Regions from separate parts of the Homo sapiens genome. Here region 1 is linked to region 2. Evidence: fine-mapped expression QTL. A gene starts in region 2. The other region holds a variant in brackets. All regions are shown on one strand. Distances are between the middles of the regions.

Region 1 (16,807 bases), 26 kb after region 2:
CAGAACCCATGTATGTGTGGCTGTGACTCTGGTTTCTGTGTTCTGTTCCACTGGTCAACTTTCGATCTTTATGACAGTACTAAAGCTTAATATTTGGTAATGCAAATTCCTCCACCTTATTCTTCAGGAGTGTTGCAGCTACTTTTGTGTTTCTGCTCATTCATCTAAATTTTAGATCAGACTTGTCAGTTATTTTCAAAAATCCTGTTGAAATTTTTATCGGAATTGCATTGGAACCATGTAGATATCTCTTATGATATTGAGTATTCTATCTGTGAACACGGGCTTTCTCTCCAATTATTTAGGTCTTCTTTAATGCCTTTGAATAGACTTTTTATTATTTTTCCGTATAGATCTTGTACATCTGTGATTCAGTTTTATTCCTGGATACCTTATAACTTTAGTTGCTCTTGTGGATGATACGATTTTTAAAACTACACATTCTGATTCATGCTAGTGTGTTGAAATACAGTTGATATTTTATGTTGCTCTTTCAGCCAGCCACCTTGTTAAAAAAGTCTTGTCTGGGATTCTTTTGGGTTTTGTCTATAAAATCTTTTTATGCCATCTGTGAACAGTGAAATTTTTCCTTCACGTCTTTATGAATGTAGTTGCTTTTTCTTACCAAGCTGTAGATCATTTCCAGCACTTTTTGCAGCTTTCAGAGCCCAGCAGCAACGCTTGCCAGTTTTCAGTTTATTCGGCTCCCTCTACTTGTTGTGCTGCAATGGAAGTAGGATGTTGAGCTTTGTCAGTAGAGGGCGCTGGAGGGACCTTGCAGCGGGAGAGGCTGCTTTTCCCAGTTCTGGTGTTGCTTTGCCCCTGCAGTGCAGTCCCCCAGTAATGCCAAGGAGAGCAGGAAGTCACCTCGCAATCCTGGCCTGGGCCACCCAGGGGACTTCACCACCACCATTACTACTTTTGCCCCCTTGTGAAAAATCAGTTTGTTGTAGTTGTCCACGTCCGTTTCTGTACTTTTTATTCTGTTCTGTTGGTCTGTGTGTCTATCTCTTCTTCAGTATGACACACTGTCTTGACTACTGTAGCATTATAGTAAATCTTAAATCAGGTAGTGTGATTTCCCCAACTCTGTTCTTTTTCAGATTCATTTTGGTGATTCCAGTTCCTTTGCCTTTCCATATAAATCTTAGAACCGGCTTATTTATGTATCTATAAGAAATCCTACTGGGATTTGTGATTTGGGATTGCAGTAAATCTATGGATAATTTGGAGAGAACTGGGCATCATTTCTGTGTTGAGTATTCCATTCCATGTACATGATGTGTCTCTCCATTTATTTAGGTTGTCTTTGAGTTCTTTCTTCAGCATTTTGTAGTTCTCAGTATACAGATCCTGTATGTTTTATTTGATTTGTACCTAATATTTAATTATTTTTTGCACCCATTGTTGTAAATCATTTAAACATTTTTCATTTCCAGTTCAAATTGCTAGCATATAGAAATTCAGTTGGTTTTGTGTGAATTTGTGTCCTGTGACCCTGCTAAACTCACTTTTTTAGTCTAGGAGTTTTTGTTTTTTGTTGAAGTCTATGAAATTTTCTATGTAGACAAAGATGTCTATGATTGGAGACAGTTTGACCTCTTCCTTGTGAATCAGGATGCCTCCTAATTCTTTTTCTTGCCTTGTTGTGCTGACTCTGAATTCACTTCTGGTACGATATTTAATAGGAGTGGAGACGGCGGACAGCTTTGCCTTGTTCCCTGCATTCGTTCTTTCACCATTCTGTACAGTGTTAGCTGCAGGGTTTTTTATGTAGATGTTCTTTATCAAGTTGAGGAAGTTCCCCTCTATTGCTCTTTCTCTGAGAGTTTTATCATGAATTTGCGTTGAATTTTGTCAGATGTTTCTTGAGTCCTGCCTTGAGGTTAGGCCAGGCGATACTGCAGGAAAAGCAGGAAACACGCCACCAGTTTGGTGGTGCTTTGAATTCTGGTCTTCTCCAATCTGCACGTCGCTGTTTTTATGTAAGAGCCTTCAAATAGCTAGTCCATGTATTCTCTCAGTTTAATAGCAGGATTTTGTGGGATAAACAGGGTGGAGTAAATGAACCAGAGCCTTCTTTTAGATACAAATGTTGATACTCAACTATGTGGTTGCTGTAAGTAATTTGTTCTTTTTAGTACTAAGTAATATTCTATTGTGTAAATATGATACAATTTGTTTATCCATTCATGTGTTGATAGACTTTTGTGTATTTCCAGTTATAGACTCATAAATAAAGGTACTATGGCTTGATTACTTGTGAAGTTGAACTTTTTCCTTTTTGTGGACACTTTCCTCTGAATTGCCCTTACCCATTTTTAAAGTGAACTTTCTTACTGATCTCTATAAGAAGTTCACTTTTTTGAGTATCAATGTTTTGTTTATGATACACATCACAAGTATTTTCTCTAGTCTGTTTGGGTGACTGGTGGTGCCATTAGCTAAAATAGGGCCTAGAGGAAGAGCAACAATGCAGGAGGAGACTCTAGCAAGGTGAAGACTTTTAGTTTCAGATATTTTGAGATTGCCAAAAATTTGGTAGAGAGAAGTGATATTGATAGGGCATTGATTGATTGGCTACAGTCATTCTCTTCATTCCTAGGATGATATTAATCCATCATCAAAATCTACATGCTTGAATCAGATTTACACTGAGTTTTAGTGTTTGTGCCTGCTGTTTTTATCAAGGGAAATAGGTATATGCTGTAGGTGTCTTTGGATGTGGTTCTCTTAATATCCGTTTATATGAACTTGCTCATGAGAAATCTCTGTGGGGCCAGATGCTAGATTTCTTCCTGTTAAGCAACAGTAATAACTGCCTGAATGCTTTGCTCTGTTCACATTGTCAGGAAACTGACACTCATGGGCACATTGTCAGAGTCATTCTCTGGAAACATTTGTATTGGCTGTAAGGTCCATCTCTTCACCCTACATCTTGACCCCCCACCTTGATTTTCATCTTATGTAACTCTTTGTAAAAGGGTTGTAAGAGTATAAATAATTTAAAAGAATTGCCAGTAGTTATTTCTAGTGCCAGGCATATGGCTTCGCATATAGGGGGGATGCTGAGTAGATGTCATCATGATACAAAGAATCAAATGGCAGATGTCTCCAAAAATGGAAAGTCAGAGGGTTTCGAGAGTCTACTTCAGGATTTATCCTGACTAAAAGAAATAACAAATCTGTTTCTCATTTCTTGTTGTCATTATTGTTGATACTGTAGCTTGCAAACCATACTGGGTACATCAAAGTTGACTGGCAACGAGTGGAGAAGGACATGAAGAAAGCCAAAGAGCAGCTGAAGATCCGTAAGAGCAATCAGATACCTACTGAGGTCAGGAGCAAAGCTGAGGAGGTGAGACTTGCATTGTTCACGTGTAGTGTGTGAACAGTGCAGACAAAAACAGGGCTTAACCCTATTGTACCATATCTCAGTGATGGACAGGGCTTAAGCATTACAAAGAACTTAGAGTAATGAGACAAAACTAACTTGGATTATCATCACTTCAGAACATTTTTAAAAGCTGGATAATTGTTTGGTGACCTTTGTCTGTGCACATTTGTGGAGTGATTATCCCTTTAACCAGTTCTTGTAGGAATGTGGGGCAGCATAGTAGGTGGGAAGGATATATGGCCAGTATAATTATTTTGAGTCCCATTTTGTCGCTATACACGCATATCTCTGAAACATTCATACTCTGCTTGTTCTGCATATAACTAGTGGAAATGTCACAAGTATTCAACTCCACTGTATATCATCAAAATAGCCATAGATGATATGTTAAATAAGTGGATGTGGCTGTGTTGCAATAAAACTTTATTTAAAAACAGGTTCAGATTGGATTTGGCCCATGGGCTGTAGTTTGCTAACCCCTGATCTTGTTCATTAAAGCCAAGTTAGATTATGACCTGGCACTGCAGGGACAGGAGAAGTCCTTCCTTTTTAAAAGGATATTTTTTGCTGCTGCTTTATTACCTTTAGAAATATGTCAGATGTTGCAAATAAATAAGTACACTGAACTGGGGAGAAATAAACAAGGATCAGGGTGTCAAGAAGATAGCTGGTACTTTCTGTAGCCTGGAGTGATGAGAGATTCTCCCATTAGCTCACTCTAGCCTCACAGGGAAAACAGACAGATTGAGTGCAGGGGAGGAGAAATACCCTGTGTGCGCCTCAGGCTTCTCATGTTGTGAGTGGCTCTTCGTGCTGGTGATTGGCAAGTGGCTGGTCAAAGCTGGTGCCTTTACCCAGAGTGGGAAGGTGGCAGAGATGGGTATCTACAGGAGCCCAGAGCCCAGATAGTTTCTCTTTCCTTTCTTCCTTCTGTCTCTCCTCAAAGTTAGGAAAGTTACATTTTTTATTTCATGAAAACTTTATTATTCAAATGTTTATAAAAATAATGCATGGCTGGGCACAGTGACTCACCACAGTGAGTAAAAAAAAATTTTGTAAGAGAGGTCTCACTCTGTTGCCCAGGCTGGAGTGCAGTGGCACAGTCATGGCTCACTGTTGCCTCAACCAAGCGATCCTCTGACCTCAGCCTTCTGAGTAGCTGGGTCTATAGGTGTGTACCACCACACCCGGTGAAGTTTTAAATTTTTTGGAGAGACAGGGTCTCCCTGTGTTGTCCTGGCTGGTCTCAAACTTCTGGGCTCAAGCAGTATTCCCACCTCGGCCTCCCAAAGTGCTGGCATTACAGGTGTGAGCCATGGCACCTTGCTGAAAACTTTAAAAATAATACTGGAAGTGTATATAATAAAAAGCATAAAGTTAATATTTGATTAGAACCAACTGTTGACTCACAGAGGGAGTTTGTTATAAAGTAACCAGATAATTTGGAATTGAGTTCACTGTCACAGGCCCTGGGGATGTAGTGGCTGGTTTTCCTACTCATAGAGCCGGTGGTCTGATTTGAGAAACAGGATGAAGATTTAGTTCAGTATTTACCAACAAGATGACTTCAGTGAGAACAGTTTGGTGGGGTGGTGGAGTTGAAAGCCAAATTAGCAAGTTGAAGAAAGAGTAGTAAAAATAATAAACGAAACCAATTTTCTCAGGAAGTTGTATGATTTTTTTTCTTCACCCCAATGGCAGATGACAAAAGTGCTTCATTTAAGGAAATGTAGAGGTCCAGGAGAGATGGAGGAGGAGTGGAAATGAGGCAGGAAGACATAGGCATCGTTGGAGTAAGGGCTTACTGGAGGGTTAGAAGACAGTGGTCCTAGGAGGATGGGGTTGGTAGTGTGAAAAATGTTAGGGGAATGTCAGGGTGTGAGTAGCTTAGGTGGTTTGGGGATGGAAGTCACCGTACTTGAGTTCAAGAAATGATCAGGCCAGGATGTTGGATGTCTTGTTCATATGAACACTTTCTAAGGTGGTGATCACACTTAGGAGAAAGAGGAAGTCTGAGCCACTTATCAAAATTGTCTCTGAAATTGGAAGGGTGGGGAGTGGTCAGGAGATTGGTAGAGCACAGACTAAGGAGCCATAAAGAGTGTCTGAATGTATGCACTGAGTCTCAGATGACCGGGAGCTATTCCAGGAGGGTAGAGGGGAGGTGGGAAGCTTTGGGAACTTAAGGAAATAAGAACGTCACCTGTTAATCATCTTAGATGTGGTGAAGTGTGAGAATGAGAATTTATAGCATCTACCTGGGAGCAGGTTTCAGGGGGGAATGCATGGATGGAGAGATTTAGGGGAGAGACTTCAGGAAATGAGAAGCCTCTATTGGAGGGTAGATGCCAAAGAGGATGGAAGGAGCAAAATTGGAAACAGAATTGCCTCTGTAACCAGTTTATTTAGTGCAGCTTTACTCTTTCGCCATAACTGTCCCCATGAACTCTCCTTCTTTGTCCTTGATTCAAAGAGCCATTGTCTCTACCTCCTGATGTGCATCCTCCTTCCCATCAGGCTCCCTCTAGTCTTATTCTCCCCACACCAGCCAGTAGTCATTTTCATATGTAAGTCTATTTAATTATTATTAAATAGACTATTAGTGTAAGTCCATTGCCCTTTGGGTAAAGTGCAAATTACGTAACCGATGAGGGGATTGACATTGTTAAGACTGGCATAGGTATAATAGAGATGATTCTTAATATTATTAACATCCTTAGCAAAACAACCCATTGTACTATCTTCTGTTTTCAGGTGGTGTCATTTGTGAAGAAGAATGTTCTAGTAACTGGGGGATTTTTCGGAGGCTTTCTGCTTGGCATGGCATCCTAAGGAAGATGACCTCATGTTCATTGTTCCTGGTTTTTTCCAGCCAGCAGCCTCTACACTCCATCATAGGACATCGAGTCCCTCCTCCTCTTCTCCCATGCCTTCTTCCCTGCCATGGCAAATCTGAGTGGCTTCTCTAAGCATCTGCTGGTACAAGTCAATGTGGCACCATGAGCTTCATGGTGGCAGAAGAGACAATAGTCCTTAGCTCTCCTCCCAGTACACCCCCTACTTGGCCAGTCTGTAGGCCAACAAGAAGGTTCCTTTACCCCCATGCAAGACACTTATGAGAACACATTACAAGATGGCTGACCGTGGAGGATGAGTGGATCCTGAAAGGTTGTCCCAAACTGTTGATTTGGAAAAGAAATAAGCACATAGATAACCTTATTGTGTGCTGCATGGAAAGGAACTGAATACATTTGCCTTTAAGCATGAAAGATTTTGGTATCTTGGTGTCTACTTTCTTTTTTAGTTGGTTTTACATTACAGAAAGCTATTTAAATGTGTTATAATTATGCCGACAAAATTGGCAGCATAATTACTGTAATTGAAAAATCTGATATTGTCCAGGAATGCTTTCTACCGTACAGGATAATGTATCTCATGGCTGTTTCCAAAGGGTTTATTTATTGTAAAACAAGTGATTTAGGTGGGAAAGGGAAGATTTTGGATTTTTATTTTGTAGAAAAGGTTTTAAGCTTTGAAATGTGAATGAAATATCCTTATCAAAACATTAGGGGTGGCCATAACTCCTCTGTGCCACTTCTACTATTTTTTTTTTTAATCTAGTTAGTATGAAATACAACATTTAAACCGGAATTTTAAAGAAGTAGCTTTCCAGGGATTCAGAATTAAGAAAGATAGTGATAGGACATGAGAAATAAATTTCCATCAAGTGTAATCTACCGTCTCATGATGACCACAACCCTGAGAATTATTCTTTAAAAGCTTACACACACACACACACACGGGCACACACGCACACACAGAATCTTACCACATTTTGCTGTAGTGGCATGTTACCATGTCTACAGTCCCTACTAGAATATCAGTCAGCTTTCAGAGGGCAAGACTTCTGTCTTCACCATTATACTCACAGGGCCTAGCACTTAATAGGTGCTGAGTATTTGAATAATGACTTTATAGAAAGAAAACTCACTATTAAAGGTTAGTTTTACTCAGAATTGTTAATCTTGGAGATGATCTCTTGTGAAATATGAGTGTGTTTCTAAGGCCATACATTTAAAAATGTTTGCATTTTAACCCGTCTTGAGAATGATGTATTGAATTTGAAAATCAAAACTACCAGTGGATGTGTGGAACTTTACAGAAACCACCTATTTGCGTTTTTCTCCTTACATTTAAGGAAACATAAGCCATTTTGCTTGCAATATGTATGAATCATCTCAAAACCATAATGGTATGAGCCTCTTTGCTGCATATTTTGCTATAAGAACTTATTTTTTTTCACTTTTTATTATGGACGCTTTCAGGAATATATAAAAGTAGAGAATATAGTACAATAATCCCCCTGTGTATCTATCACTCACTCACAACAATCATCAAATTATAGCTCTGCTGGTTTTTACCAGTTATTGTGAAACAAATATCAAAATGTCATTTTATCATATTTCAGTATGTATCTCTAAAAGGTAAGAATTATTTCTAAAAATCATAAATACCTCATCATATCAGACATTAACAGTAATTACATAATATCCAAAATCTGATCAGTGTTCAAAATTTCCTCAAGTGTTTTATATTTAGTTTGTTTGAATCAAAATTCATGCAAGGTTCACATCGTATTTGCATGATTTGGATAAGTCTCTTAACCTTATAGATCCTCCTCT[AT/A]TTTTTTTTTTTTGCTTGCTATATATTTATATCTCTATATATATTGATATAGACATATGTAGTGACACTGAGTCATCTGTTTCCTGCTTCCCCACACTCTGCCTCTCCTGACATCTGGGTCTCTGGGTTATGCCATATATGGTGATAGTGGCTGCAGCCACTTTACCTGTGTGACTTACCCACAGCAATGGGATGGTAACAGCAAAGCTAACCAAAGTGCTCTGTGCCCCTTTGGGTTGCATGTGGGGAGACTGGCCACCCAATGCCTCTCCAGTGGGGTAGGGGTTGTCTTTTGGTGCATCTGTTTTTCCTGTGATTATTGGTGAGGGCAGCAAAGATTAGCAGGTGGTTGTAAACTACCTTGAGTAGGTTGTAATAAATAGTCTGGCCTCAGACTGTATTCTGATTGTCTGAATTAAGATCTGTAGGTAGGTCCCTCCTGAAGTTTTTTCCCAGCTGGCTGCCTCTACGACTGTGAGGGTCATGGTTGAGGTCAGTATTGCAGGTTGGCCTCATCCTGCTAGTATGAGAACGGCTGTGAGTTCTGCCCACGGTGTGAGGCCACTGTGACCACTTGGGATTGTGCAGAGCTGGCATGGAGGTTGAACACGCACAGCTGCACACCTTGTTTTCAGTTTAGCTGAACCATCGGTGAAGGAGGCTCAGGCATTTGGGGTTACCTGTGAATCAAGGCCCTATTGTGCCAGCAGTTTTGTTTCAGGTGGTGAAGTGGGAGTTAAGGTTTCCCCCAAAAGAACAGCTGCCACTCCTCCATGCAAAACCGAGATGATTCAAGGACCAGGCAGCTCCACCTTTCAGTGCACTACTTTCATTTGACTGGAGAGGCCTGCTTAGCTAGGCACGTATTTTCTCCAGTAGCAGAGTCCAATGACGCTCTGGACTTCCTAATTAGTGGTGGTGGGGCGGAAGTTTTTCCTTGGGAAGAGCGTTGTCGCTGTATATGGTCCGCAGAAACTTGACTTGGAATGTGTTCGGGGTTTCATCGCCCCCTTGTGGCGGCGACGTGGTAACACCGCACTCAAGGCTTCCAACTTGTCAACCAATAGGATGGCATCTACGTAGTGAAGGCTTCCCTTCCCTTGTCCTGCAGCGTGCTGGACAGTGTCCCGGCTCAGGGACCCCTTCTGTCCCCTTCCTGGCTACTATGGGTCGGCCCTGCGTCCTCACCACTTTGAGCCACCCTTTGACCCAGCGTCTCTCCCGCAATGGGACCTGGTGGGATGGGGACTTGGAGCATGCTACAGGAGAGGTAGAACTTTTGAGTCTCTTCTTCCCAAGGTTCTCCCCAGAGTCGGAGAGCAGAGACGGATCCAGGGGCACTTTCTGGCCGCTGCCTGCTCGGGCTCAACAGATGGAGTCCAATGTTTCAGTCTCCCCCAAGAATGTGTATCCTCATTGCTGACACGGGAGCTGGGTGCGGGGAGAGATGTGGTGGTGGGGACCCTTGCCTGAGCAGCCCATTGTCATGAGTGTTATTGCCATTGTGATAATATGTTAGCATGACTCTCCTCCCAAATGGCCGCTTGTTTGTTGCAATCTCCCGCCACTCAGCCTCCAGACATTCATTAACAGGACAGTGGGGTTCTTGACTCCCCTACCACTGGGGTGACAGTCCTTGCTACTGGATCTGGGCAGTTACTGTCTCATGGATGCTGGCAGAAGACGATTCAAGTTGGCGGACTAGATTCTACAAGGAATGATCTCTTGCATAATTCTAGCCAACATGCTCTTGGGGTGGGTGCTTCTGGTTTTGGAAAGCAAAGTTACTGTGTAGTTAACAACTATTGTGGTAAGAATAGTCTCTCCATCATTCTTTTGTTTCACGGTTGTCAGAAAGATGGGCATAACTAATGGTTGGGCTCTTATTTGGAACCTCTACTTTTGTACAGTTTGGGAATCTCTGCTTGAAAAGATGGTATACTGATGGATTTGAAATTTCTGAGTATCATCAATGTTTCATGATGATCTCAATTTCTTCTCAGAGGGAAGCTCACAGCCAGTTTTGGACCCCAGAGAAAAATGTGGCTGCTGCCCTCTACTCCCTCTACCAAATTATCAGCTTCATTTCTTTGTCATGAAATCTAGTATGATTTCTCAGAAATCAGGCCCAGAACTAAAATACATTTTCTGCCCAATTTTCTAAGAGGTCACACTAACATCTGAGTAATTGGGCAGAAAACCTATTTTAGTTCTGAGCCTGATTTTTCTAGAAGTCATATGGTATAGCTTATATTTCCGATGCTTGCATTCTTTTTAAGGGGTCATGAATCTTAATACTTTTTTTTTTAAAAGAAAAGTGTCGCACTTTTTCACATTTTTATAAAGCTTTAAAGTCAGTTTACTGACTTTTCAAAAGTGTCTACCTTTTTAAATTTTAAAATGGTAAGAAATGACATTCCTGAGAGCAGTGGCTTTCATCCTTGCTTGCACTTGGGAATCACCTGTGAAATTTTAAAAACTACTAATGCCTGGCTCTCATCCTAGAGATTCTGATTTCACTGGTCTGGAGTGCTGTTCAGGCATCCTGAGGTTTTAAAGTGTCTTAGCTTTTTCTAATGAGCAGCAGAGACTGAGAACCACTGAAGTACACAGTTGGAAGCTGGTGCTGAAAAAATTAAGAGTTTTGCTGTTAACTCCTTAAGAGGGCTTTAAAGCCTTTTATATTAAGTGCCATACAACTTCAGATGCCTTCTGAATACTGAACACAAGTGTAATATTATAGTTCATTAAATGTCTTAGGAATCGTGTGGAGTGAATGCAAGGAAAGGAGTGACAAGATATCACCCCACAAATGACTTACCCATTACGAAGGGAAAACTACCTTTCTAGCTAAAAGGTCTGTCAGTCACTAACCAAGTGATTAAACTTAGCATCACTAATAGCCAACTTAACAAAGTTTTTTTTTTTTTTTGGTTTCTAAAATGGGAGATCATAGTTTTCACCTTCCTAGAGTTCTTTGCTTAAGACTGAGATTCAGTGTTACTCTTGGTCCCTAACAATAAGAAGCACTCAGTAAATGTTAAGCCTTCTATGATGGCTATTTTATTTTTTTGTATGTCATAATAATACCTAAGAATAAGAAGAGTTAAATTAATGTCTTCAAATGGATTTGTTGACTTAAACTGACACAATCCTTTAAAAGAAGGAACTGATTTGAACCTTTCAAAACTGAAAGAAAGTCGTATACTGATACAGTTTGGAGCCACCGAATGTCATGTTGAACCGTATTCCCTAATGGAGGTGGATCCTGGTGAGAGGTGATTGGATCGTGGGGGCCATCCCCTCTTGGTACTTCACTCATGATAGTGAGTTCTCATGAGATCTGGCACTTCACCCCTCACTCTCTCTTGCTCCTGCTTTGGCCATGTGGAGTGCTCACTCCCCTTTTGCTTTCTGCCATGGCTGTAAGTTTCCTGAGGCGTCCCCAGAAGCCCATCAGATACCAGTGCCATGCTTCCTGTACAGCCCATGGAACTGTGAGCCAACTAAACCTCTTTTATTTATAAATTACCGAGTCTCAGGCACTTTTTATAGCAATGCAACAATGGACTAATACATATACTTTAGCATAAAAACATTTAAAAGAGTCTGAAACTGGAGTAGTTAACTCAGTAAAAATAACTTGGCAATAAAACACAGAAAAACAATCTATTTGATCATGTAGTGATTCCTAATGTAAATCCTAGTACAACTGTCAACTGATAATTTTAAATGTAATTTAGATTTGTAGATGGTGTAACATTAAAGTTGTATGATGTTTTATTGTGTTATTATTAACACAAGACGTCATTTAAATTTCATGGGGATTTAGCTCTGTCACTCTGGTTTGTGGACCAAACGTCTCTAAGGCAGCATTTCTTTAAGTCGCTCTGGAGAGCATTCACACACAGAGATGCTGTCTGCAAAACAGGTTCACTTAGGTTTTTTGAAAGCTCTGAAGTCTGACAGGAAATTAACCTGTGTACTTGTATGCAACCTAGCATTCCCCAAACTTACCTGACCAGAGAAGCCTTTTTTTTTTCTTCCGGTTACAGCAATTCCTAGAAACACTTTGAGTAATGCTGCTTTAAAGAAAACAGTTGGTCTCAAATAATCATGGTATTTTAACATCAGGGACCTAGCAGAAATTGTTCCTGCTTTTAGTCATCTTTTTCTTTTTTAGAGGACAGCCTTTGGTGGTTCAAGCATCCATTTGAGGAAAGCAAATGGCCTGTTGCATGCTGCCTCCTCCTACTTCATAAAGTGACTGACAGCTGTCAACAGGCTTCATTCAGCAGCTTTGTATTAATGTTGTCTGGATCCTCTGTAACAGGTTTTTATTATCAGGATATAAAGAATAGATAAACCAACTAAGTTTGAATTATCTTGCTGCCTACCTGACTTCCAATGAAAATTTTTTCTTCAGTTCCTTCATGATAAATTAAGGATCATTAAGCATTACAAGAATCATTTCTATGCCTTTCCTACCTGGTTAGTCGCTGCAGTGGGGATGCAAAAGCAGAAAGAAATGCTCTTACTGGCATCTGGAAAGACACTTTTTGCTCTGCATTTTTGGAAGTACAAAAGGTAATGAGTTAGTTTAAAGGAAACTTTGAATTAGTTTAGCATGTAATCTATAAAAGGTATCAAAATTGGCTCACGCCTGTAATCCCAGCACTTTGGGAGGCCGAGGCGGGCAGATCACGAGGTCAGGAGTTCAAGACCAGCCTGACCAACATGGTGAAACCCCGTCTACTAAGAACACAAAAATTAGCCAGGCGTGGTGGTGCATGCCTATAATCCCAGCTACTTGGGAGGCTGAGGCAGAATTGCTTGAACCCGGCAGGCAGAGGTTGCGGTGGGCCGAGATCGCACCATTGCACTGTAGCCTGGATGACAGAGTGAGACTCCATCTCAAAAAAAAAAAAAAAAAAAAAAAAAAGGGCGTCAAAATTGTGATGCTGGAAGTGAGTCCTTTCACCTAACATACCTCATATGACTTAAATTTGATGAATGGCACTAGTGGCTTGAACTTCAAGAGAATTCATTAATACCCTATATCTAATAGTCTTAAAATACATTTAGTACAAAACCCAAATTTTTCTCTTAAACAGGTTTATTTTAGCAGCTCAGTATATTACATTCTACATATTTGTCTTTTAATGTGTTTATATTTCTGCCTGTTCTGCATAGATGGCATATTCATTAACTTTTGTAGCTGACTTTTTCATTTGCTATTTGCTGCTACCTGGCCTGAAGAGTCAGGAGGATAAAAAAAATTCATTTGGTGGAAACATGGAGCAGCACTTCAGAAGAACTTTACTTTGATGCAGACTTCCGTGTTAGGTTTTCTTCCTCTTCTTTTTCAAATCCTGAACAGACGACAGATCTTCCCTTGGGATACTGAGCACAACACTTACGCAGTTCTTGGATGACAGCCTGACACTTTGATTCCATGTAGCTGTTGGCTGAAAAACATACAGGCAGACTCTAGTCATGATCTCATAGGACTAAGGTACAGGGAGGTTTAGATCAGTGCTTCCCACCCCTTTTCACTTTCAGTACCTATGGAACTGGAAGAAAGAAGATATACCAAAGTCCACTGAATTCTTTCTAATTTAGAGACCTGTCGACAGGTTCGTTAGGGAAAGTATGATTTACAAAGTGGTTGAAAGCTATTTTAATATATAATTTCCTTTAAGGTTAATAGCATGTATGCACCTTTTTCTAGGACATTGGTTTTTAACATCATTTTTATTACTGGTCACTAATTTGATGAATTAGGAAAATGCACATACACCACACATTATTTTGCATACAGTTTAAGCTGATTGTTGGACCTCCCCTACTAAGGCTGTGCATCAGGAATTGGCAAACTGCAGCCTTAGGGTCAAATTCAGCCGGTTTTTACAGCTGGGAGCTAAAAATGGATTTTAATTTTTAAAGGGTTGTAAACACACAACACATACACAATATATACAACAAAGGCCTTTGGCCTCCAAAGCCTAAAATATTACTTGTTTGGCCTTTTTCATAAAACATTTGCAGATCCCTACTATACATAAACACTAAGTTAAGGAGGACCTGACCTAAAGACTCTAGGTCAGCTGCAGTTAATGAGTCCCCCAGTACTAAAATGGAGTACATGGTAGTTAGCTCAGGATAGGAAAGACAATTCTGATTAGAAAGGCAGTATAGCAAGGTGGGTAACAGTCCAGATTTGGAGCTAGACCAAGGGCGGGGTTGGCGGGGGGTGTTCAAATTCCCACCATACCTCTTACTAGCTATGTGACCCTAGTCAAATTACATAACTTGTGTGTCTGTTTTCCCCTTTATGAAATGGGGGTCATAGTAGCATCTACCTCATGGATGAAAGGCTTAATACGTATAAAGTCCTTATAACGGTGCTTGTCATCTTTTAGTCTTTCCAGTTCTTAATCCTCCCACACTGCCAAGGGGGTGTCACCAGCTCTTTTTAACTTATTTTTTTCCCTTAGCTATGGGTTATTTCAAACAAGGTAAGGTTTTATTTGGGAGAAGGAATTAAATGCAAAAAACTTTTTCCTTTTCCTTAAAGTTGGAGGGAAGAAGTTTGACTAAAATGGCATTATTATACATCCAGATTTTAATCTAAAAGATTTTATAAAATATTGCTAACATCAAAAAATGAAAAGTCCAAGAATGAAAGCTAAAAGTCCAAGGAGATACACAAACAAAGGATTTCTTTGGTGGTGAATCTTTGGGGGAACTCTGAACATTTTTCCTTCATACCTTTCTATATTTTCATGACCTTCCATCTCCATCTATTACTTTACTAGTGAGGAAAACTTATTAAAATTTTTTCAAATTCAGATAGCCTTATAGCTTTTTCTATTTGCTCTTCTGGCAACAGTCATTCACTGATTAGAAAACTAAAATCCTCTAACATTTGGTCAAACTTAGCAGCTGGACAAATGGACAAATCACCTCAAATATGCTTTAGTCGAGATTCACTTCTGCCTTTAAGAGTTAGTTGATGACTTTGGCAGCCTGAATTCCAATTGTTATTTCAACCGCACCTCTTCCAGATTGCTTTTAAAAAGTGAATTGTCAGCTGCAGTGAAGTATAACCAACCAATTTAAAACTAGCCTTTTAGTAAAAACAAACAACAACAACAAAAAACCCTTTTTTTCCTAGCCCTAGCCCTAGGAAGTCTGAATTGTTCTAGGTAAGTGTTTAAAGATCTCCAGGTGATGCTAATCACCTGGAGTGAAAACCCCTAGCTTTGATCACATTACTTTTTATTTTCTGCATCTTTGATGATACAATGAAGAGAATCTTCAGGATAATTACATATACGTTACATTCTTAAAAAAGAGTTAATACAGATAAAAGAATAATTGGTCTCTTATAGTTAGTTCACAGTGGAAAAATATTTTTAAAGCATTTTACAATATACTACCTTGTAAACATTTCTGTATCTCACAGGCTTGCTTCTGGCACGGATCCTTCTGCGGCATATCCAGAAAACTAAAACAAGAAAAATGATTTTTATTTTTCTTTTTTCCATAAAGACTTTAAAGCCCCTCTACGTGGAATTTTCTTCTGAGACAAGCAGTATATGCCCTTACAATTGCTGGAAAATAATTACACTAAAAATACTCTTCCCAAACATAGGATGAATCAACTGTATTTTTATAATATCCATTTCATTAGGCTTGGAAGATATAAATAGCTTTACATGGAAAAAAAACCTTGAATTCAATCAACTCTTTTTGAATACTGTAAACCAACGTTAGGCTAGAGGAGCCGACGGCGCAGCCTGGCTCTATCATTCGCAGAAGAAACCCTTGATAAATGATTAAACTCCTTGAGCTTTTTTTATTACTCATATATAAAATGGGAATCATACCTACCTCAAAGCATTGACAGGAGGATTAAATGTGATAAAGTATATAAAGTACATACAATAGTGCCTGGAAAGGACTCCAATACATGGTAGCTATTATTCCCAAGACTTTTTTTTTTAAAGTAAAACCTTACTTTTAATGTATATAAACTGTTATAACTACTTTAACTCAGGAAATTCTTTACAAGTAGTAAATGTTTTCCTAGGAATCAGCAATATTTGGTGTTATTACTTCCTGAGAAAGGTGCCAGTTAAGCAGCTAAAATGGTTTTTCTTGAAGTTCTTATAGAAACCAGCTTATTTAAAATATCTGTAATCAGAGAATGAATTCAAGAGCCCACAATTTTGATCAGCAACTTCCAGTAATTTGAAGACACGATTTCAGATAGAAAAAAAGGCCCACAAGCCTTTGTAGCTAATTTCATCAATGCATATCTCTTTTCAGAGCCCTCTAAATACTCAGCAGATCCAAATTAGGTCAGTACTGGGATGGGAAACACTGGAGCAAAACCTAGGATATTTACAGGATGGGAGAAGGAAAGGCAGGTGAATTGCTGCAGGGCAAATAAGCGACAAATAGATGTTGATGCTGCTAGGAGCTGCTCTCTTCTCTCTAAATCAGTACCAAGTCCTTGGTGATCAGGGCATCTGTTCTGTAGAAGGTGCTGACTTTTGTGGGATTCATCAGATCCCAGGTCCAGCCGATGATGTCCATTAAGGGTTCTATGGCAATTTCCAAAGGAGTCAATTTCAAGTTACGGATCCTGACTAAGTGCTTTTGTTGACTTGCTTTCTGCCTACGTAACCTCTCTCTGCAGTTTCACTTGCAGTATTCTTC
Region 2 (16,480 bases):
CACAGGAAGAACTGAAGTAGCAAAAGGGAGGCTGCTAAACTTAACCCATTCACTTCTGAGAGCAGTAGGGGCATAAGTCTGCTTTAATCAGAACCTTTAAGGAAAGGAGGAGAGGGATGGAGAAGTCAAAGTGAACAGGAGCTTTAATTTGTGCTCCTATTCCTAGCCTACTCCAACCCTCTTCCTGAGTGGCAGCAGCAAGAGAAGTTCTGGATGTTGTCGAAGATTCTAGAATTCACTTGCACTAGCAAGAGTAACCAGCAACCTGTTAGTCTCTCTGCTTTTGCCCTTGCCCCTCACACTGCTGCCAGTATGAGGAATTTATAGTTTTTAAAACTGTAGTTTTACATATAACATGAGGTTAGGCAACTATTGTTTTAAAAACTATAATTTATAGTTATAATTTAAAACTATAAAGCGAGTCCTGTCACTCCTCTTCTCAGAATCCTCCAATGGCTTCTGACCTCCATCAGGGTAAAACCCTACATCTTTACCATGGCCTAGGTCCTAGAGCATCCCACATGGTCTGCATGCCCTTTCTCCTGACCTCTGTAGTCTCATCTCACTCTGGTTATACTGGTCTCCTTACTCTTCCCTAAAATATCAAGCACACTCATGCCCCTGGACCTCAACACTTGCTATTTCTTTTACCCAAAACACCTTTCCCCCAGATTTCCACGTAGTTCCACTCCCACAACTCCTTCACATTTCAGCTCCAATCTTCCCTGTTGAATGAGGTTTAAATATGGAACACCACATTTATGTTGTAAGCTCTTTACCCCCACCTGCATCACTGATATCCCTCTTGGCTTCATTTTTCTCAATAGCACTCATAACCACCTGGCATTTATTCATTTATTTATTTTGTTTTGTTTTTAACCTAACACTTTTCCAGGCTGTTTACATTTGGCCCAGGTATAGGATATATCTCTTTACATCAGAATGTAGCCATGGTGAGCTCAAACACCCTACTCAGGTTAATGTTTATTAGGGAGAGTGAGGGCCCCTGCAGGGGCCTCAAAGTGTAAGAGATTATGAGAAGAAACTTGATCAGGGTTGCTATAAAAATGTTATCATTGAGCTCAGTTCTGCACAAACAAGAATGTGTTAGGGAGCAATTGGTATATTGTCGACTGGTTTGGAAACAGGCAGCAAGAAGCCCCTTTGATAAACACTCCTCTCTGACAGGTACAAGGATGCAGAGATGACAGCTGACACTATATGCCAGGAACTGTTCTAGGTGCTTTTAAATACAGGTACTATTCTTACCTTCATTTTATGGGTGATGAAACTGAAGCACGGAGAGGTTAGGCAACTTCTCCATGGCCACACAGCTTGTGAGTGGTAGCATTCAAACCCATGTACTCTGGCTCCAGAAGTCATGCTCCTAACCACTATGCTATACTTCTATGCCTCAGAAATGAAGAAATCCCAGTTCCCAACCCCCTGGGAATGACAGTCCAATGGAGGAGACAGAAAAGTAGACAGTTACAGTACAGGGTGATAAATTCACTGCCAGGTGCTACACATAGGCTATCTGATTTAATCCTCATGACAACACCGCAAAGTGGATACAGATAAAGTAACTGAGGTACAGAGAGGTTAAATGGCTTGCCTACAGCCACATAACTACCCATTTGTCCTAGACAGATATTGTCCTAGGCACTGGGTACACATTGATGAAAAATATAAGCAACTGAAAGAGGGATGATAAGCAATAATTACAATACATGAGTACATTATACAGTATGTTAGAAGGTAAAATAAGTGCTGTGCAAAAAAGAGAAGTGGGGTAAGGGGGAGTAAGGGTGGACCAGGTTGCAATTTTAAAGGAGGTTAGTCATGGAAAGTTTCACTAAGGTTGCATTTCAGCAAAGGGACATTGACTTCTACACTGAGGGCAATGGGGAGACACGGCCGGGTTGTGAGTAGAGGAGGGTGGTGATCAGAATTATCTTTTAGGCTGATCTTTCTGATCACTGTAGATAAAACAAACTCTAGCAGGATAAGGGTAGAAGGAGGGTGGCCTGTTAACCGGGGGTGAGAAATGGTGGCGGCTTGGGCTATGATGGTACCACTGGAGAGGGTGAAAAATGGCTGGATTCATTGTGAGGGTAACGTTTGTGGGAACTGCTGATGAATTTTGGATCTGTGGGCTTTGAGAAGGAAAAATTTGGAACACCAAGTTTTTTGGAATAAAGTTGACTAACTGGGATGGGGATGACTGCATGAGTAGCTTAGGGGCGGGGCACACTGTTAAAGGGCTCCTCAGGCACTGCAGGCATAGAAGCTCCTTTCTTTCCCAGTGCTTCTCTTATAGCGATTACAATGTTTTAAAAATGTGTCTTCCAGACAAATACAGTACAATCCAACATGTTTGAGGTTCTACAGTTAACAGATTGTATAATTAATAATCTGGGTGGGAATGTTAATCAGGAATGAAATACAATTTAAAAATTAACAAAGTAATGAGTCAGAGGCTATATTGATAGAAGCACTTTTTAAGGAATAGCATTCCCTGGCCCAAGGGCTTAGTTGATTGAAAATTTTATCTATTATTGCTAAATTTTAAATCAAAATATGGCCGGGCACGGTGGCTCACACCTGTAATCCCAGCACTTTGGGAGGCTGAGGCGGGCAGATCACGAGGTCAGGAGATCTAGACCATCCTAGCTAACAAGATGAAACTCCTCCTCTACTAAAAATACAAAAAATTAGCCGGGCATGGTGGCACGTGCCTGTAGTCCCAGCTACTTGGGAGGCTGAGGCAGGAGAATCGCTTGAACCCGGGAGGTGGAGCTTGCAGTGAGCCGAGATCGCGCCACTGCACTCCAGCCTGGGCAACAAGAGCGAGACTCTGTCTCAAAAATAAAATAAATAAATAAATAAATAAATAATCAAAATAGACCCCATTACCAAATTTTCATGTTTTCAAGGATTCTCTAAAACCTACAATATTATCAATTACATATTCACAAATAATTACTGAATACAATATGGTATGTGGTAAAGTACAAAGGAGTACTGTGGCCATTTGTGATAAATAGAAATCAAATTGGAAATCTTCATAGATAACGTATTTTTTCTTTTTTTTTTGGAGACGCAGTCTCACTCTGTCGCCCAGGCTGGAGTGCAGTGTCGCGATCTCGGCTCACTGCAAGCTCCGCCTCCCGGGTTCACGCCATTCTCCTGCCTCAGCCTCCCGAGTAGCTGGGACTACAGGCGGCCGCCACCATGCCCGGCTAATTTTTTGTATTTTTAGTAGAGACGGGGTTTCACCATGTTAGCCAGGATGGCCTCGATCTCCTGACCGCGTGATCCGCCCGCCTCGGCCTCCGAAACTGCTGAAATTACAGGCGTGAGCCACCGCGCCCGGCCAGATAAGGTATATTTTTATTCCTTTTATTTTTACTCAACTCCTATGGTGCCACAAAATCCTATATTAAGCAGTATAATTGAAAAGAAAAAGAAAACAATAGCACAATGATTATAAAGAAAATAGCCTGAGTTAACTTCATTTGTGTCACTCCTAAAGCAGTGGATCAGATGTCAATGTTTATTATCATTCACTAATTACATTTATGAATAATTTTTAAAAGTAAAGGAAAAGACTGGCTGTTTTAACTAACATAATAGAAACTGTTGCTGGATTTTCTGTTGAAGGTATATTTTGAAGTGAGTTTTATTAAGTATAACTCGCATGTAAAATTCAAAAGAAAAATTAAATACATAAATAAAATGTGTCTTCCTCCACTAAAAGAGTAGGACACATCGCAGAAGCCGATAAATATTTGTTCAATGTTTACATGAACAAACACGGTCACTCAGCCGTCTTTATTTTCAGTGAGTCATAGGTAAAATATTCTTCACCAGGCGAGGATTGAGTCGCAGTCGCGTCAGGAACTCGCCTCCAGGTACTGAGCGAGCGAGCCCCGACGGCCGCGGTGGGTGGAGGGGGGAAAGTGGGGGAGAGTGGGGCGGGAGTAGAGGGAGAGCGAGGGAGGGAGCCTCACCCCCGGGACGCTTTCTGCGCACGCGCATCTCGGTGCATCTGTTGGGCGGGACCGCGGGGCCTGTGACACCGCACGCTGAGCTCTGTGATGTAGCCGCTTGCGGAGACTGCAAGCAGCCGCGGCGCGCCCGGCCCTCCCTCTTCCGCTGCCGCCGTGGGAATGGAAACATCTGCCCCACGTGCCGGAAGCCAAGTGGTGGCGACAACTGCGCGCCACTCCGCGGCCTACCGCGCAGATCCTCTACGTGTGTCCTCGCGAGACAAGCTCACCGAAATGGCCGCGTCCAGTCAAGGTAAGGGCGGGCGCGCGCGCGGCCGGCGCCGCGGGGAGCCGCCTTCCTGGGCTCCGGAAGGGGAAGGGCTCCGCGCCCGCCAGTCGCGACCGAGCTCCCCGGGGAGTCCAAGCGGCGCGGGGACGGGGAGGGCGCTCGGGGATCGCCCCTGGCTCAGCCGCTCCCAGGGTCCGGCCAAGGTCACGCGCGTGTCTGGGGCCTAACCACCCTGGGGTGTCGTCTCCAGTGGAGCTCACCCAGCCTTCCGGCGCCGCCCCCGGCGCAGAAGCCCGAAGACATTCTGTCCCCGTTCTCGGAAGCGGTCTGGCTTCTTTGTCCCTTTGGACGTTCATCTCAAATGCCTCGTGGCGTCATTCTGTGTACAAGGCACCTCCCCAACTGCTTTATTGTTGGTTTTGAAAAACTAGCACATATGGGATGGTACTTAGGAATAGCCTTCTGTTTAGTCGGCATAGTCAAAGATTCCGTGTAATTCGCAGTGGAGCACGTCTTTAAGTTATGCGTCTTACCCTATTTTGAATGTTTAGGTTGTATTTAATTTAGTACTGACTCACGGGATCCCATTGCTAAACAGAGCCATCATTGAAAACTCAATCATATAAACGTAAAATTACGTAAATTATGTTAAAAACAAAGGCAGTGAAAATACTAAAAACTCATCACTTTTATTATTTACCATGTTTTATTGTTACTTTACTTTTGAGGTTATTTATACATCTATTGTATCTTTGTGGAGGAGATACTATACTATGGTGCTCTACTGTGCGTCTCTTCCCATCTCTGGGTTCAGTAGTTTCACAATTCAGTAATGTCATGCTCACGATGAATGAATACGCAATGGAAATTGGCTACACTACAAATCAGCCCTTGCCTAAAGCCGACTGTTAAGCATTTCACCAGCACGCCGCTAAATTTTAGATGACTCTGGGAAGGTGGAATGTGCAATGTGATAATTATGTATTTTCCTGCAGAGCAGACTGCTCTTATAGACTTTTATAAGAGCAGACTGCTCTTATAGACTTTTATAAGAGCAGACTGCTCTTATAGGTTGATCAGGTATTTGCACCTAGGAAATTGTTGTGAGAAATTTTGAGGTTAAGATGAGTTTCAATTGTTATCACAGTGATGATCACATAATAACTGTGATCATTGATTTTGTGGGCTCATAAACGAAGCTATTGGCTGACTTTTGTCTGTCATAGTGCTTAGCAGTGTTTGACCAATGACTGACCAAATATCTCGCATTTAATCTACCTTCCCCCCTACTCCCTTTTTTAGGGACTAGATCTGTCATTCAGGCTACAGCACAGTGGCACAATCATAGCTCACTGCAGCCCCAGTGGAGCCACCTGTTGATCTAAGGGGCTTGGTCAAATTACGTTAAAACTGTAATGTTTTGTTGTTACATTAGAAAAATAAATTATTTAACTACTTGAGAGGCCATGGAGTACCCAGGTACTCAGACATCCATATTTTGTTCTGCTAAATGGGCGTCTGTGATGTATCCTGAATGAATTCTTGAATTATATTTTGTGTATGGTTTAAGGTAGAGGTTGAGAGTAGTTTTTTTTGAAACACAAATATATAGTAGTTCTAACATCATTTGTTGTTTCCTTCATTGAGTTACCTTGGTGCTAAGTTATTAAAAATCAAATGACTATATGTGTGGATCTATTTCTGGATTCTGGATTCTCTTCCATTGCTATATTTGGGTATCCTTGGGTCAGTTTGACAGTGTTGAATGTCATTGCTTTATAAGCCTTGAAATTAAGATAGTTGTATATTATACTGTAGCTTTATAATGAGCCTTGAAATTCCTTGAACCCTCCTCTTTCCCTTGCCCGCCTCCGCCCCCAGGATTATTGTGGCAGTTTGTATTTTCCTGATTGCAGCAATATTTTCCATTCCTTATGGTCTTTTTCCTAGTGACTTTGACACTCCTCCCACCCAGGGGTGGGATCTATATTCCCTCTTCATGAATCTGGATGGGAGTTTGTGACTGACTGCCTGTTCCTACAGAATGCAGTGGAAGTTAACACTGCATTTGCTCTCTCCCTTTCTTGGGACTTTCACCTCCTGAACTCAGCTCCTATGCTGTAAGGAAGCCTAGACTGACTCACATAGAGTAGCAGCCTATCTATCTGTGTGAGTGTAGAGTCTTCAGACCCAGCCTGTAAGTCTTCTGGCTAAAGCCTCAGACATGAAACAAAGACAAACCACAGTGCTGTGGCTGAATTCCTGATCCACAAAATCTGAGAGCATAATATATGATTGTTTTGCTTCATGAAGTTTTGGAGTAATTTGTAGTACAGCCGAAGTAACTGGAACACTGCTGGGTTTTTTTGTATCTTCATATGAATTTTAGAACCAGTTTGTCAATTACATAAAAACCTACTTTTTTGCCGGGCGTGGTGGCTCACTCCTGTAATCCCAGCACTTTGGGAGGCTGAGGCAGGCGGATCACCTGAGGTCGGGAGTTTGAGATCAGCCTGACCAACATGGAGAAACCCTGTCTCTACTAAAAATACAAAAAATTAGCCAGGCGTGGTGGTGCATGCCTGTAATCCCAGCTACTTGGGAGGCTGAGGCAGGAGAATCACTTGAACCTGGGAGGAGGAGGTTGTGGTGAGCCGAGATTGTCATTGCACTCCAGCCTGGGCAAAAAGAGCAAAACTCTATCTCAAAAAAAAAAAAAAAAAGAAAAAAGAAAAAACCTACTTTTTAATTGAGATTGTATTGAATATATAGATCAATATATGGAGAGAATGAACATCTTAAAAATATTGAGTCTTGCAAAACATAAACAGTATATCACTGTTATTTTAGGTCATCTTCAATTTCTTGGCAGTGTTTTGTAGTTTGCAGTGTTTTCTAGTTTACAGTGAACAGGTCTTGTGCATCTTTCATTGAATTTACTACAACATAATTTTTGCAATTAAAATTATTTTGTTTTCCAATTCATCATTTCTAATACACAAAAATTCAAATGACTTTTTAATATTGGTCTTATAATGTGTGACCTTGCTTCTGGTACCTTTTTGTAGATTTTTCTGGGTTTTCTATATACACCGTTATATTATCTGCCAATGAAGACAGAATTATTGTTGTACCTCCTTTCTAATCTCTTTGACTTTTATTTCTTTTCTTTTGTTGCACTGGCTAGGAACTCCAGTACAGTGCTGGGCGAGGTGGCTCACACTTGTAATCCCAGCACTTTGGGAGGCTAAGGAGGGAGGATCACTTGGGGCCAGGAGTTCCAGACCAGCCTAGGCAACAAAGTGAGACCTCCTGTCTACAAAAAAAAAAAAAAAAAAAAAAAAATCAGTTGGTCATAGTGGTGCACAGCTGTAGTCCAGCTACTGGGGAGGCTGAGGTGGGAGGATTGCTTGAGCCCAGAAGTTTGAAGTTGCAGTAATCTGTGATAGTGCCACTGCACTCCAATGTGGGTGATAGAGTGAGACCCTGTCTCAAAACAAAACAAAAAACAGTTGAATAGATTTTAGGGAAAGAAAAGTGTTCCATATTTCACCATTAAGTATGATGTTAGTTGTATATTTTTCATAGATGTCCTATATCAGATTGAAGAAATCCCTTTCTATTCCTATTTTCTACTTTTTTTTTTTTTTTTTTTGAGATGGAGTTTCGCTCTTGTTGCCCAGGAAAATGGGCAGTGGTCTGATCTCGGCTCACTGCAACCTCCGCCTCCCAGGTTCAAGCAATTCTCCCATCTCAGCCTCCTGAGTAGCTGGGATTACAGGCGCCTGCCACTATGCCCGGCTAATTTTTGGTATTTTTAGTAGAGACGGGGTTTTACCATGTTGGCCAGGCTGGTCTCGAACTCCTGACCTCAGGTGATCCACCCGCCTCGGCCTCCCAAAGTGCTTGGATTATAGGCATGAGCCACCACGCCCAGCCCCTATTTTCTACTTTTTATTCTGATTTTTTTCTTTGATTTTAAAGTATAAAATTTCTGTAATTATTATTTTTTTACAGTAAGTATTCATTTAGATTTATCCACCTATTTGCCCATTCCAGTGTCTCATTCCTTTCTGCATTTCCATATTTCCATGTGGCATCATTTCTTGTCGGCCTGAATAACTTTTGTGTACCTCTTTGAATATTACTTCTATCCCATTCTTTCTAATCTTCTGGAACTCCAATTACATATATGTTTAATCTTTTGAGCAGTTTTTGATCATTGTTATTTGCTTACTTCAGCATCTTGATCATCACTGGTTCTGTTTCTGTTTCTGTTTCTTTTTCTTTTTTCTTTTTGGGACTGAGTCTCGCTGTGTCACCCATGCTGGAGTGCAGTGGTGCGATCCTTGGCTCACTGCAACCTTCGCTACCCGCGTTCAAGTGATTTTCCTGTCCCAGCCTCCCGAGTAGCTGGGACTACAGGCACATGCCACCACGCCCAGCTAATTTTTGTATTTTTAGTAGAAACAGGGTTTCACCATGTTGGCCAGGCTGGTCTTGAACTCCAGACTTCAAGTGATCCGTCCCCCAGGCTTTCCAAAGTGCTGGGATACAGGCGTGAGCCACCGTGCCTGGCCTGCTTCTATTTCTTTTATTTAAACAAATTTTGTTTCCTTTATATGGCTTTGCCTTTGCATGGGTAGTAGTCATTTTCTATTGTTTGTTACATTATGTGTGAAAAGATTGTACACACTCCATGCCAGATGAAGTTGATCATTTGAGGTCAATTTTACAGTAAACAGCTTTGAATAGTACATTGCTGACATTTCATATCAGACATTTCTTAGTGCGGTGTGTTTCCAGGGAAACAGGGCTGGGTATAGTAGGGGAGCCTGACATTATCTTCCCACAGAGAAAGGGATTGACATTTTGTTAAGTCTTTCTCCATGCTTGGGCAAATCATTTAACTTTGGAACCTTCATTTCATTTTTTTTTTTTTTCTGAGACGGAGTTTCACTCTTGTTGCCCAGGCTGGAGTGAAGTGGCGCGATCTCGGCTCACTGCCACCTCCACCTCCCCGGTTCCAGTGATTCTCCTGCCTCAGCCTCCCAAGTAGCTGTGATTACAGGCGCATGCCACCATGCCCAGCTAATTTTTGTAGTTTTAGTAGAGACGAGGTTTCACCATGTTGGCCAGGCTGGCCTCAAACTCCTGACCTCAGGTGATCTGCCCACCTTGGCCTCCCAAGGTGTTGGGATTACAGGCGTGAGCCACCACGCCTGGTGCCTTCTTTTTTTTTTTTTTTTTTTTTTTGAGATGGAGTCTCATTCTTGTTGCGCAGGCTAGAGTGCAGTGGTGCGATCTTGGCTCACCGCAACCTCTGCCCCTCAGGTTCAAGTGATTCTCCTCCCGAGTAGCTAGGATTACAGGCATGTGCCACCACCCCCGGCTAATTTTGTATTTTTAGTAGAGATGGGGTTTTTCCATGCTGGTCAGGTTGGTCTTGAACTCCCGACCTCAGGTGATCCACCTGCCTCCGGCCTCCCAAAGTGCTGGGATTACAGGTGTGAGCCACCATGCCTGGCCTTCATTTCTTAATTATAAAATTGAGTTAATAAGTAGTACCTACCTTATTCTGTGGATTAATTAGATGTACATGATTAATGTTTAGCACATTGCCTGGTAAATAGTAAGAGCTCAATTAAACATTACCCTCTCATCTTCATTATCACTGGAGATCCACGTAGTACTTAGAAAATTTGTGGATTACTGAATAGCATTGAGCTACTTCTGAAGAGAAGGGGCAAATTTGTTTCATTTGGGATGCATTACTGGCAGTTTTTTATAGGTCTTTTTGGATTTATTTATTTATTTGAGATGGAGTCTTGCTCTGTTGCCCAGGCTGGAGTGCAGCGGCACTATCTCGGCTCACTGCAACCTTTGCTTCCTGGGTTCAAGCAATTCTTTTGCCTTAGCCTCCTGAGTAGCTGGGATTACAGGTGCCTGCCACCACGCCTGGCTAATTTTTGTATTTGTAGTAGAGATGGGGTTTTGCCATTTTGGCCAGACTGGTTTCGATCTCCTGACCTCAGGTGATTCGCCCACCTCGGCCTCCCAAAGTGCTGGGATTACAGGCGTGAGCCACCGCGCCCAGCCTTTTTTGTTATTTTTAAATTTGAGAGGACAAACTAGAGGACTAATTTGAGATTTTCTAGGTTTTTCCCTGTAATATAGACATTAGTATTTGCTGATTTTAGTCTGATTTTCCAAAATTGCAACTTAGAATAAATTTACTATTTAAAATAGAATATTTGGAGGTTTCTTATTACATTTATGTCTGTTTCTTTAAATATCTCAATCTAGTTAGGTATAAAAGTAAATATTTTCTTATTTAACGTATTACTTCTTGTAGGAAACTTTGAGGGAAATTTTGAGTCACTGGACCTTGCGGAATTTGCTAAGAAGCAGCCATGGTGGCGTAAGCTGTTCGGGCAGGAATCTGGACCTTCAGCAGAAAAGTATAGCGTGGCAACCCAGCTGTTCATTGGAGGTGTCACTGGATGGTAAGTGATGTGAAAGATGTCCACTGTCTTTTGTGCATGATTTAGTATTGCAGTTATAGGTACCATCATCTCCTTTAACCAGTGAAAACACATTGGCTTCTGTGAAATTGGTCACTTAATGTGGAGCATGTATCTAAACATCATCTTAAAGTACCATTTAATGGTTACACATAATGATTGTTTCCTATATGCCAGGTTCTGTTTGAAGTATTTACATAGATATCTCATTTCCTTCTCACAACTCTGGAATTAGTACTGTTATTTTCTATCCTCATTTTATAGAAACTGAGGCTCAGAAAGGTTAGTTTGCCCAAGGCCACATAGCTGGTAACTGGTAGAATAAGGAGCTAACTACTTATTAGCTATGTCAGATGATAACTTAATGTGACACAGCTTATGGTTTCATTTGTAATAAATTCAAAAAGTAATAGCAAATTTCATAGGTGAATATTGAATCCATTAATCTCATAGACTCTTTACATTTGAAAAATTTTATAGCACCATATAGCAAATATAGAACAGCACATTTAACAGGTGTACATTTTAGCAAATACTTGGAGTGAACACCTATGTAACAACTGCTAAGGTTAAAAAAAACGTGGCTAGCGCCCTAGAAACTCGAGAGGTTATTAAGCAGTTATTTCATTGCTTTTCTTTGTAGTTTTAACACCAGTTATGTCACTAAATAACATACTGTGGTTTACCTGCTTTCCACCTTAAAGTAAATGCAATCAGTATGTATTCTTTTGAGTCTTGCTTTTTTCGCTCAACCTGATGTTTCATATATTCAACTACATTGTGTATAGTTGTAGTTTCTTCACTTTCACTTGTATTTTGAGTTCCATTATGTGAATATACCACAGTATATCCAGTTGATGACTGATATTGGAGTTGTTTCCATTTTTGGCTAATACTATGCTTATATGAGTATTAGATTTCCCAGTGTATATGTGCATACATTTCTGTAGGGTCTGTACCTAGAAATTGCTAGGTAATGGGTATAGGTATCTTCAGCTTCACTAAATAATGTCAAACCACCTTCCAAAACTGTTTTTAACAGTTTACAGTCCCAGCAAGGACCAAATGAACCTGTTGTTCTACATGGTGGCACTTGATTTTGCCAGGCTATTAAATTTTTAAAAAATTAGTTAATTTTTCCTTAGCGAGGTAATCAAGTTAAATCCAGACTATAAAAATTTTACCAGTCTGGTAGTTAGGTAGTAGTATTTCATGGTGGCTTCATTTACATTTCCCTGAGTAGGAGTGACATTGATCGACTTTTACGTATGTTTGTTGACCATTTGGATCTCCTCTTTCAGTTCCACTCTAGTTTTTTTCCTCTGAAGTTGTCATTCTTTCCCTTGTTAAGCTGTAAGAGTTCTTTATATATTCTGAATATTCTCAGTCCTTTGTTAGTTGTGTGTATTATAGATATTTTCACTCATTCTGTGGTTATCTTTTCGTTTTATGGTATCTTTTGATGAACTGAAGATCTTATTTTTAATATAGTCAATTTTATCAATCTTAACCTTAATGGTTAGTGATTTTTGTGGCTTATTTAAGTAATCTTTGCCTACCCCATGTTTCAGAACTTTTATTATTTGACCTTTCACATTTAGATTTATTATCCACCTGGAATTGTTATTGTGCTCAGTATGTGGTAGATTCCTTCTTTTCTTCCCCATGTGGAATACCCATTTGTCCCAACTTAATTTATTGTGAAAGCTATCCCTTTCCCCGCTGCTTTATGTGAGTGTGTGTGCGCATGCATATGTGTGTGTCTGCTATCTTGTTCTTTAGGAACATCTTGGCTATTTTCTTTATCTCTTAGTTTTTAAATTTAATAAATAGGTATATTATAAGTTGCACATATTTAAAGTATAAAATTTGATACATTTTTACATATGTACATGCCCATAAAACCATCACCACAGTCAAGATAATGAACATACCTATCACTTCAAAAGCTGCTTTGTACCTCTTTGTAATTCCACGCTCTTTCCTTCATGCCATCCTCCCGCCACTGATCTGCTTTCTATTACTATAGATTATGTTTTCTAGATTCTTTTTAGAAGTGGAATTACATAGTATATATTCTTTTTTGTCTGGCTTCTCTTATTCACCATAATAATATATTTTTTTGTTTTGAGACGGAGTCTTGCTCTGTTGCCCAGACTGGAGTGCAGTGGCACGATCTTGGCTCACCGCCTCCTGGGTTCAAGCAGTTCTCCTGCATCAGCCTTCACCATAATAATTTTGAGATAATCTGTGCTTTTCTGTTTATCAACAGTTCATTCCTTTTTATTGCTAAGTAGTACTCCATTGTATGGATGTACCACAATCTGTTTCTCCATCCACCTTTGATGGACATTTGAGTTTTTTTTTCACTTTTTAGCTGTTACAGATAAAACTTCAAGTTTGTATACAAGTGTACAAGTCTTTGTATGAACATATGCTTTCATTTCTTTTGGGTAAATATCTAGGAATAGTATGGCTGAGTCACGTAGTAAGTGAATGTTCTAAATTTACAAGTACCTGCCAGTTTTTAAAGTGCCTGTACCATCTTACATCTCCACCAGCAATGTGTGAGGGTTCCAGTTCCTCTGCATCCTTACTAACACTTGGTATTATCTTTTTGATTACGAACATCTTAGTGGGTATGAAGTTGTATCTCATTGTGGTTTGAATTTGCGTTTCTCTAATGACTAATGATGTTGAGCATTTTCACGGGCTTATTTTTTGCCATTCATATATCTTTGATGACTTATTTGTTCAAATCTTTTTCCACATATTTTTATTGGGTTGTTGGTTTTCTTTCACTGCTGAATCGTGAGAGTTCTTTAAATATTCTGGATAGAAGTCTTAGATATGTGATTTGCAAATATATTACTTCTCTGTAGCTTTTCATTATCTGAACTGTACCTTTCAAAGAGCAGAAGTTCTTAATCTTGAAGTGCAGCTCTTTTGTAGCTCCAGCTTTTGGTGTCATGTCTGAGAATATTTGCCTAATCCAGGGTCACCAAGATTTTCTCTCGCTTTTTCTAGATTGTATATAGGTTCGGATTTTATATTTAGTTCTGTGATCCATTTTGATTTACTTTTTGTATATAGTATAAGGTAGGAATCCAAGTTTTTTTTGCGTATGGGTATCTAGTTGTCCCCACATTTGTAAAAAAAAGACTGTCTTTTTCTCCACTGAATTGTCTTTACACCTATGTTGAAAATCAGTTGACTATATGTTTTTGAGCTCTTTGTACTGCCAAATTGATCTAGGTGCCATTATCATGCTGTTTTGATTACTGTAACTTAGGTAATGCAAGTCTTGAAATTTTGTTTTTCATCAAAGCTATTTTGAGTATTCTAGGTATTTAGCATTTCCATCTGAATTTTATCTTGTTTTTATACACTCCTCCATATGAATTTTAGAATTAGGTTGCTGCCAGTTTCTGCCAGACACCCGATGAGATTTTGACTGGGATTGCATTGATCCATAAACATTGGTGTATCTCTCCAATTTGTTTAGGTTTTCTTTAATTTCTCTCAGCAATGCTTTGTAGATCTTACACATCTTATATCAGATTTATTCCTAAGTATTTCATATTTTTGATACCATTATAAATGGTATTACTTTCAAAATTTCAAGTTGCCATTGTTCATTGCTTGTATAGTATATAGAAATGCAATAGTTTTCTTTGTATATTGATCTTGTATATTGTAGTCTTGCTAAAAGCCACTTACTAGTTGCAGAGTTCAGGGGTCCCCAAGACCACTGTCATGTTTGATAGTTCTCTAGGAGAATTCACAGAACTCAGAGCTGTTCCACTCAGGGTTATTTTTTTATTTTTTATTTTTTTAACAGAAAATGATACAGATTAACTCAGCCAAGGGAAGAGGCACATGGAATAGGGTATTGTGGAGTCTTTATATTTATATTTATTTATTTTTTTTGAGACATAGTCTCGCTCTCTCACCCAGGCTAGAGTGCAGTGGTGTGATCTTGGCTTATTGCAACCTCTGCCTCCCAGGTTCAAGCAATTCTCTCGCCTCAGCCTCCCAAGTAGCTAGGACTACAGGCGTGAACCATCACACCGGGCTAATTTTTGTATTTTTAGTAGAGTCAGGGTTTCACCATATTGTCCAGGCTGGTCTCAAACTCCTGACCTCAAATGATCTGCCTGCCTCAGCCTTCCAAAGTGCTGGGATTATAGGCGTGAGCCACCACACCCAGCTGAGTCTTTACATGTAAAGTAGGTTTCTTGTAGGTTCCATATAGGTGGTTGTTAATTTTTTAGAATCCAATTTGACAGTCTCTTCCTTTAAATTAGGGTGGTTAGACTATTTACATTTAAGTTTATTTTTAAAATTCTTTTAATTGACTAGTAAAAATTGTAGGCTGGGTGCAGTGGCTCACACCTTTAATACCAGCACTTTGGGAGGCCGAGGCAGGTGGATCATTTGAGCTCAGGAGTTTGAGACCAGCCTGGGCAGCATGGCGAAACCCCATCTCTACAAAAAATAGAAAAATTAGCCGGGCGTGGTGGTATGCGCCTGTAGTCCCAGCTACTTGGGAGGCTGAGGTGGGAGGATGGCTTGAACCTGGGAGGGGGAGGTTGTAGTGAGCCAAGATCATGCCACTGTACTCCATCCAGCATGGGTGACAGAATGAGACCCAGTCTCAAAAAGGAAACAAAACAGCAACACCAAAATTGTATTTATTTGTGGCGTACATGATGTTTTGATATATGTATACATTCTGGAATGGCTAAATCAAGCTATTTAACATGTATTACCTCACATACTTACCATGTTTTTGTGGTGAGAACACTTAAAACCTACTCTTATAGCAATTTTCAAATATATAATATGTTGTTATTAACTGTAGTCACCATGATATACAGTAGATATCCTAAACTTCTTCCTCCTAACTGGAATTTTTGTGTCCTTGACCAACATTTCCCCAACCGCCCCACCCCACAACCTTTGGTCACCACCATTCTCTGTTTCTATGAATTTGACTTTTTTTAGATTCCACATATAAGTGAGACCATTTGGTATTTGTCTTTCTGTGCCTGACTTATTTTACATAGCATAATGTCCTACAGGTTAATCCATGTTGTCACAAATATCAAGATTTCCTTTTTAAGGGTTGAACAGTATTCCATTATGTAATATACCACATTTTCATTATCCATCTGTTGATGGACACTTAAGTTGTCTCTATCTTGGATATTGTGAATAGTTGCAGTGAACACGGGAATGCAGATACCTCTTTAATGTACTGACTTCATATCCTTTGGCTGTATACCCAGTAGTGTGATTGCTGAATCATATGTTATTAGTTCTACTATTTTTAATTTATTGAGGAGTCTCCATACAGTTTTCCATAATGGCTCTACTAATTTACATTCCTACCAACAGTGTACAAAGATTTCCTTTTCTCTACATCCTCACCAACACTTGTTATCTCTTGTCTTTTTGATGATAGCCATCCTAACAGGTGTGAGGTGATAGCTCATTGTGGTTTGCATTTTCCTCATGATTAGTGATGTTGAGCATTTTTTTCATATACCTTATTTATTGGCCATTTGTATGTTTGTATGTCTTCTTTTGAGAAATGTCTATTCAGGTCCTTTGCCCATTTTTAAATCAGGTTGTATTTTTACAATTGAGTTGTTTAATCCCTTGTATATCTT

Which allele goes with the higher level. Alleles are on the strand shown, and positions count from the first base shown. SD is a standard deviation of normalised expression in the study named.
In carriers of allele A in region 1, the expression in prefrontal cortex of the gene that starts at base 4,078 in region 2 tends to be lower than with AT alone (small effect, 0.12 SD a copy in CommonMind).

What was found. PIP is the estimated chance that this variant, and not a neighbour inherited with it, causes the effect. A credible set is the group of variants that fine-mapping cannot tell apart.
Region 1: its variant is the best candidate, but not a certain one, in a credible set for the expression of FUNDC2 in prefrontal cortex (CommonMind, PIP 0.60).

Annotation. Positions count from the first base shown.
Region 1 is chrX:155,048,444-155,065,250 of GRCh38, forward strand. FUNDC2 (FUN14 domain containing 2) reads left to right here. Exons shown (of 5, transcript NM_023934.4): 4 at 3,227-3,358; 5 at 6,152-11,861. The coding sequence ends at 6,229. It overlaps CMC4 (C-X9-C motif containing 4), which reads right to left. Exons shown (of 3, transcript NM_001018024.3): 2 at 15,523-15,590; 3 at 13,179-13,548. The coding sequence starts at 15,580. The coding sequence ends at 13,400. MTCP1 (mature T cell proliferation 1) reads right to left here. Exons shown (of 5, transcript NM_001018025.4): 5 at 15,591-16,807. Among named protein-coding and RNA genes, the nearest start is that of CMC4, 14 kb to the right of the region's middle. RefSeq lists enhancers at 8,825-9,326, 8,991-9,285. The variant AT/A (reference allele first, on the strand shown) is at 8,080.
Region 2 is chrX:155,022,767-155,039,246 of GRCh38, forward strand. It overlaps FUNDC2 (FUN14 domain containing 2), which reads left to right and starts at 4,078. Exons shown (of 5, transcript NM_023934.4): 1 at 4,078-4,305; 2 at 10,637-10,787. The coding sequence starts at 4,173. RefSeq lists silencers at 3,899-3,988, 4,259-4,578 and an enhancer at 4,756-5,659.